Regions from separate parts of the Homo sapiens genome. Here region 2 is reported to be linked to region 1. The links are microRNA targets in miRTarBase. Many come from high-throughput screens and were not tested one by one. Region 1 holds a microRNA gene; the other region holds the end of a gene's coding sequence.
Evidence for each region. Region 1 holds the annotated microRNA hsa-miR-491-3p (CUUAUGCAAGAUUCCCUUCUAC, at 807-828, shown strand). A microRNA usually pairs through its seed, bases 2 to 8, with sites in the 3' UTR of a target mRNA and lowers its output. Matches are read on the target gene's strand: a 7mer-m8 pairs with bases 2 to 8, a 7mer-A1 pairs with bases 2 to 7 and ends in A, and an 8mer does both.

Region 2: the mRNA of ZBTB25 is a reported target of hsa-miR-491-3p. Seed matches in the 3' UTR shown: 7mer-m8 at 955-961.

The regions. Positions count from the first base shown.
Region 1 is chr9:20,715,348-20,718,347 of GRCh38, forward strand. It overlaps MIR491 (microRNA 491), which reads left to right and starts at 758; the gene lies at 758-841. FOCAD (focadhesin) reads left to right here. Exons shown (of 44, transcript NM_001375567.1): 2 at 1-63; 3 at 2,447-2,521. The coding sequence starts at 7.
Region 2 is chr14:64,483,872-64,487,415 of GRCh38, reverse strand. ZBTB25 (zinc finger and BTB domain containing 25) reads left to right here. Exons shown (of 3, transcript NM_006977.5): 3 at 1-3,544. The coding sequence ends at 493. Among named protein-coding and RNA genes, the nearest start is that of ZBTB25, 18 kb to the left of the region's middle.

The sequences.
Region 1 (3,000 bases):
GCAAAAATGTCAGATGATATCAGGAAAAGGTTTGAATTTCCAAATTCTCTTATCCAATCACAGGTAATTTTGTTTGTTTATTTTTGCTCATGGTAACAAATAAACCTGTTCTGTGGATTTTTAACTGAACTTTATATATTTAATATTAAATATTTTATTCTACATGTAGAGATTTATATTTTGTGAAACAACTTTAAATATACATTTAATTTGAAAATATATATTTGACATGGAAAGCAAATATTTGAAATTGATCAATCTCAGCTTCTGTTTATATATCATACTTTTCTTCCTAGAGATAATAAAACCTTGATTAACTAGTAGGCCCCTGAATATGTTTGTTTGGTTTTTTTTGGCCTATGATTATTGGGAACAGAGGTAAACAGTTATATGTCTGAAGAGTATGAGGGATTAATATTTAAGAAGACATATCCTACCCCTTATATAGATTTTTATAATAATGATATTTAATAAGTAAAATATCCTGGATTAGAAAATTTGATATATCTACTAAGATAGAAGATTGTGATAACTTTAAAGAGCTTTTCAATAATTAAATAGTTAAAACAAAGATGGCTTTCTGGGTAGCCTTTAGCTAACTAGAAACATTCTGGTTAATCAAGGTATCATAATAGCTTATTGTCTTTTCTTGTGAGAGTAAAGCTAACAGACCAGCAGAAGCCATCTTGAAGACTTAACAACATACAGCACCTTGGATACTTTCAACAATTAACTTCGGAGATGTCTGCTGTGGGAATTGACTTAGCTGGGTAGTGGGGAACCCTTCCATGAGGAGTAGAACACTCCTTATGCAAGATTCCCTTCTACCTGGCTGGGTTGGAGTCATATCCTGCAGGTCCTTACCATGAAGAAGAAGATGAAGGCTTGGAGGATACTATTCACAGTTTTATTTTTCTGTGCCTGGAGTCTCTTTGTTAACATAGATAATCAAGAAATGCCCATACGTGTTACTGTTAAATTAGGTGAAAAAAATATATATATATATTTATATTGTTTAGTGTAGGATGGCTATTTGAATTCTGTTATAGAACACTTAAGTAGCAATGTAGGCTGATTTATCCTTGGGTTTTGTATTTTAAAAAATCAGTTTAGGCTAGTATCTCTGATTTGTTAGAAGATGAAGTGAAAAGTATATTAGATAAATTCAACCTGGTGGGGAATGGGGAATTAAGCTTCTCTTCTTTTATTTCTTTTTCTAGATATGAACTATAGCTTTTTCTTTGTCCCTATTGTGTTTCATATTAGTTTTATTAGGTTCTTGTGATTGTGTCCTGTCCTTTGCAAATATTTCTTATTGTTCTTCTGTAACCACTGCTCGATGTTAGCACCATATTTCTTTGATTCACACACGTTTTTTTTCAGATTTTAACATCTTTGAAATTGGATTGCCTCTAGTAATTGATGGCAGCAGTTGAGATACAGTTGGTATTGCCTGCACATTTGTGAACTTGGGCATGATTTTCTACACGAGTCTAAAAGAACTCTTGTGTGACTATAAAACCAAAATTCCGACTTATAAGAAGCACTGTATATCATAGACTAATTGGCAGCCTTTTTTCTTTCTTAGTGGCACACAGTATAATGGTGCAACTTGCAATTCCTGGTCAGTTCCATTCAATGAAATATGGTATGTTTTGTAAAACAGGAGCTCAACCTATCCATGGGTGCTCAGTTCTTATTACTATTCCTTTTACTAGGAGATAAGAGACAGTAAGTTGGACTAAACTTAATATTCATGTAAATGAGTGACTTATATCACAAAACTAGACCACAAGCACCACGGTCTTAAATCAGTTCCAATGTGTGAAATACAAAGAGAAAAATGAGGAAGGAGTGGGTGCTGTGTTTTTATTTGAGCTGTTCTGGAGACTTTGCAGGACTGACAGTTATTCACAGCTATACCGTAATTTGGTCCCAAGTGCAGGATGGACAGTTGTAGCAATAGTGAAGTAGTTTCCAACCCGTACACAGAATGGCAATGATTGTTGCTAGCCTATTGGCTCTAAGACATATTCTTCATATTCGTTAACAGTGTGATGAAGCATGGTGGATTTCGTTTCAGTGCAAAGATGATTTTAAAAACTATGGGCTTTCTCATTCATGTTTTAATGGAGTAAGCAATCTCAAGTTATCTTCTGATACTGACAGCAATTTGAACCAAAAATCTGGCAGTTTTCTTAACCTCTATGCACTATAGTTGCTTATTGGTAACCTGGGATAGATATGCCTACCTTGAGGGCTATTCTGAAGATTAGAAATTGTGCATGTGGAGTGCCTAATTCAATGCCTTCTACATAGCACACACTTAGTTAATGGGAATTTTACTTAATCCTAATTGACTGCCTGGCATACTCATATCAACTAGTATTGATATTTGGAAAGAACTTCTAAGGGACTGTGTTCATTAATTTTATTTCTTTTTAAGGCTGTGGGTCATCTTATTGCTGCAGTCCTAAAGGAAAATGGTTTTTCAGAAAAGATTCACCAATCTACAAATCAGGTCTGTGTTTAACTTTATGCTTTAATTCTCTTCAGATAAGATTGCTACTAGCTGGATCACATATGCACCTGTCTTGTTTCCCTGATAGTTCAGATCACAGTAGAAATGCTTTTGAACTGTGAGAACTTCATTGCCTTTTTTGTTTATTTGTTTGCCTTTTTAATATATAGCAATAAAAAAGTTTTAAATTTATTAAAACCCTCTAGGAATGAGACATGGAGGGAAGGGCTGGAGAGGAGTATTCTTATGACTATTAATGAAAAATAATATGGGTGGAATGAGAGAAAGCATGCTTTAGAGAAGATTGATAGAGTTACCTCTGAGGGAATTATTTTGGTAATGAAGAGAATGAACAGAGTGGCTCTGTTTGGATGTAGATTTCTCATGCTTCAGCTCAGCCCCAGCTGTGAGTTCTTAGTTGGAAAGGTCATACATTGACAGTCAAAGCTGAAAAATTCCATCTTACACAAATAGCAGGT
Region 2 (3,544 bases), not on the chromosome of region 1:
CATTCTGGAAAGTAATGACCTTGGTGAAGTGCATCCCCTTAATGAAAACAGCGAGGCCCTTGAATGCCGCAGGCTCAGCTCCTTCATTGTTAAGGAGAATGAACAGCAGCCAGACCACACCAACCGGGGTACCACAGAGCCTTTGCAGATCAGTCAAGTATCTTTGATCTCCAAAGACACAGAGCCAGTAGAATTAAACTGTAATTTTTCTTTTTCAAGGAAAAGAAAAATGAGCTGTACCATCTGTGGTCATAAATTCCCTCGAAAGAGCCAATTGTTGGAACACATGTATACACACAAAGGTAAATCTTACAGATATAACCGATGCCAAAGGTTTGGTAATGCATTGGCCCAGAGATTTCAGCCATACTGTGACAGCTGGTCTGATGTCTCCCTGAAAAGTTCTCGCTTGTCACAAGAACACTTAGACTTGCCTTGTGCCTTAGAGTCAGAGCTCACACAAGAAAATGTGGATACTATCCTAGTTGAGTAGCAGCTTCTCTTTCAGAATTTTTATACCAATTCTGAAAAAGAAAATTTGCGTGGCATTTTTAATTCATAAATTATTTTCCTCCTCAAGTTTCATTGACTTTTTTTCTTCACAGCTTATCCATGGTTTTAAGGTTGTATATATTAGATCTTCTCATAAGACATATTAATATGTGGCTATTAAAATGTAACATTCAATTACTACTGTGAACTTTTCACAAACGAAATAACAATTTAGAAATCAGAAATCAATGTAGAAATATGGAAACCTTAAATAGTTATTTATAGAATTCTAAGTTTTTCCAGTTATAGAATCAGTAAAATCAAATTGAATATAAAGTAAATGAAATCTGTTTTAAAGCATATTCTAAACTATCACTTCTGCCTACATTTCACATGAATTCACTCCTACCAGGATTATTTTTAAATATTTTCTTCCATATAGGAAATTAATAGTTACTTTAATGCATAACTGTATGTTATACATATGTTATAATGTATAAAAATTTATTTTAAGATATACCAAATCATGAGTAGTTTTATTTTTTAACTACTAGCTCCACAACATCTTACCTACATGGCTTCTCTTTACTTTTTAACATTGAGTATACCTCTTTTTTTTTTTGAGACAGAGTCTCTCTGTGTCGCCCAGGCTGGGGCGCAGTGGCGCGATCTCGGCTGACTGCAAGCTCCGCCTCCCGGGTTCACGCCATTCTCCTGCCTCAGCCTCCTGAGCAGCTGGGACTACAGGCGCCCGCCACCACGCCCAGCTAATTTTTTTGTATTTTTTTAGTAGAGACGGGGTTTCACCGTGTTAGCCAGGATGGTCTCGATCTCCTGACCTCGTCATCTGCCCGCCTTGGCCTCCCAAAGTGCTGGGATTACAGATGTGGTATATCTCATTTTTAATAAAAAAAACAGTTAAAGGGAGAAGAGTCAGAGAGACATTAAAAAATATTTAAGAAACAGTAAGATATACACACATAGATAAATAAGCATGCAGAGACAGAGACTGAGCTAGAACTGCATTGACTAAAAACCCCAGGGTTGTTAACTTGGTCTAGAGTGTTTTCTTAGACACCTTAAAAAGTAATTTGAGATTTTATGACCAGAGGTTTACATGAGTTGAAAGAGAATGATGATAAAATATAAATCATGTTTCTACCCTCAGCGTCAGGATTTTTGGGGCTTCCTGGGTTGATTTTAATTTTCTAAAAATCACTGAAAAAGTAATTTTTCAGTGGCACAGTTTTCACTTTTTTCCTGATCCATAAAACCAGCAAAGTGGATACATTCAGTGTTCTATAACTACATTTAAGATCCATGATGTTAGCTTTTCCTCTATAAATCAACTTAACTCTCTTTTATAATGGTGACACTTACAAAGCTAAAACCCCAGGAAAATTAAAGTTGATGAAAGAAATAACAGATTCCCCGGCTCTATATACCTGGGAAATAGCTGGTTAAGCTTCACCACAAAGGATAGATCTAAATTGTTTCTGAAATGTTTAAATTTCAAACCCCGCATAGTCAAGGATAATAAAACAGACTCATCTTTTTTTGCCCTCTTGTTAAATTCTAAGCTTCACGGGCATTTGAATACATCTAAAAAATTTGGTTTGTGAGCCTTAGAATTTAACCACTTACAAAACTCTTGAGCTCCCTCCACTTCTGAGGACGTTTCCTGACACATTCAACAGCATCAGCGTCCAATCAGGAGGGAGCTCAAAGAGTAATCCAGCTAATTCTAAGGACACAAAGGTTTTCTCTAGGTAAACAGTTTAGGTAAATTACAAAGTGGTAAGTTTTTCTTGAGGATTGAATGAAGAAAGCTACTGGATATTGTGTAAGGCAGTTGAGTTTCTGCCTTAAACAAGTGAGTAAAGGCTCCTATGGTTAAGACTGATGTGTGTTGAGAGCACATCTAACTTGATAAGATCAATTGTATTGGGAGTAATTAAAACAAATGTATGTTCTTTGGGGTCAGAACTTTGTCTAATCTTAAACTTTTTTCTACCAATTCACTTAAGCAACTATTGAAATTTGTACTGCCCTCAAAAATATCATCTCATTGGAAGAACACAAGTATTAACATTGATTTTTTGTATTTTAGGCTAGTTAAGATATATTTCCTAGCCTTCTTCAATTCAAATTCTATTGTTCTTATTAAGATAATTTTTCTCCTCTATATTCTTCCCTGTTTGCCTACTCATTATTATTATTTTTTTAATTTAATTTTTTTTTAAGATGGAGTTTCACCCTTGTTGCCCAGGCTGGAGTGCAATGGCGTGATCTCGGCTCACTGCAATCTCTGCTGCCTGGGTTCAAGCGATTCTCCTGCCTTAGCCTCCCAAGTAGCTTGGGATTACAGGCATGCACCACCATACCCAGCTAATTTTGTGTTTTTAGCAGAGACAGGGTTTCACCATCTTGGTCAGGCTGGTCTGGAACTCCTGACCTCAGGTCATGCACCAGCCTCGGCCTCCCATAGTGCTGGGATTACAGGTGTGAGCCACCGTGCCAGGCCCACTCATTATTCTTTGACACAGGAAATCCTTGTATATAGCTAAAGGGTGGAGGTAGAGTTGTACATGGTTGGTTGGATAAGACAGCAAGTGCCTCAGGGCAGAGTTTGGATAAATGGTAAGAGTTTGCTAGCAGCTGATTGGCCGTGATAGACAACACTCATTTAAAGCAGAAATATATCTGTTCGTTGAGAGTTAAGAAAATAGTGGTTAACTGTATTTCTATTCTTATAGTTCCTTTTAATATTAGAAATTCAAAGCAAATGCTCTTTCCTTGTTCCTTAAAACATTCATTCTGTTTAGGAAGTGGGAAAATATCAACTTCATTTTATAGAAAAAAAATCCCAAAAGCTGAATTCCAGAGATGCAGTGAATAGTGGTGTGGGACTGACCCCCAGTTTTTGTTATTGTTGTTTTCATTTATTCTGCAGGCTTTTTTTTTTTTTTTTTTTTTTTTTTTTGAGACAGTCGTGCTGTGTCGCCAGGCTGGAGTGCAGTGGTGCAATCTCAGCTCACTGCAACCTCCGCCT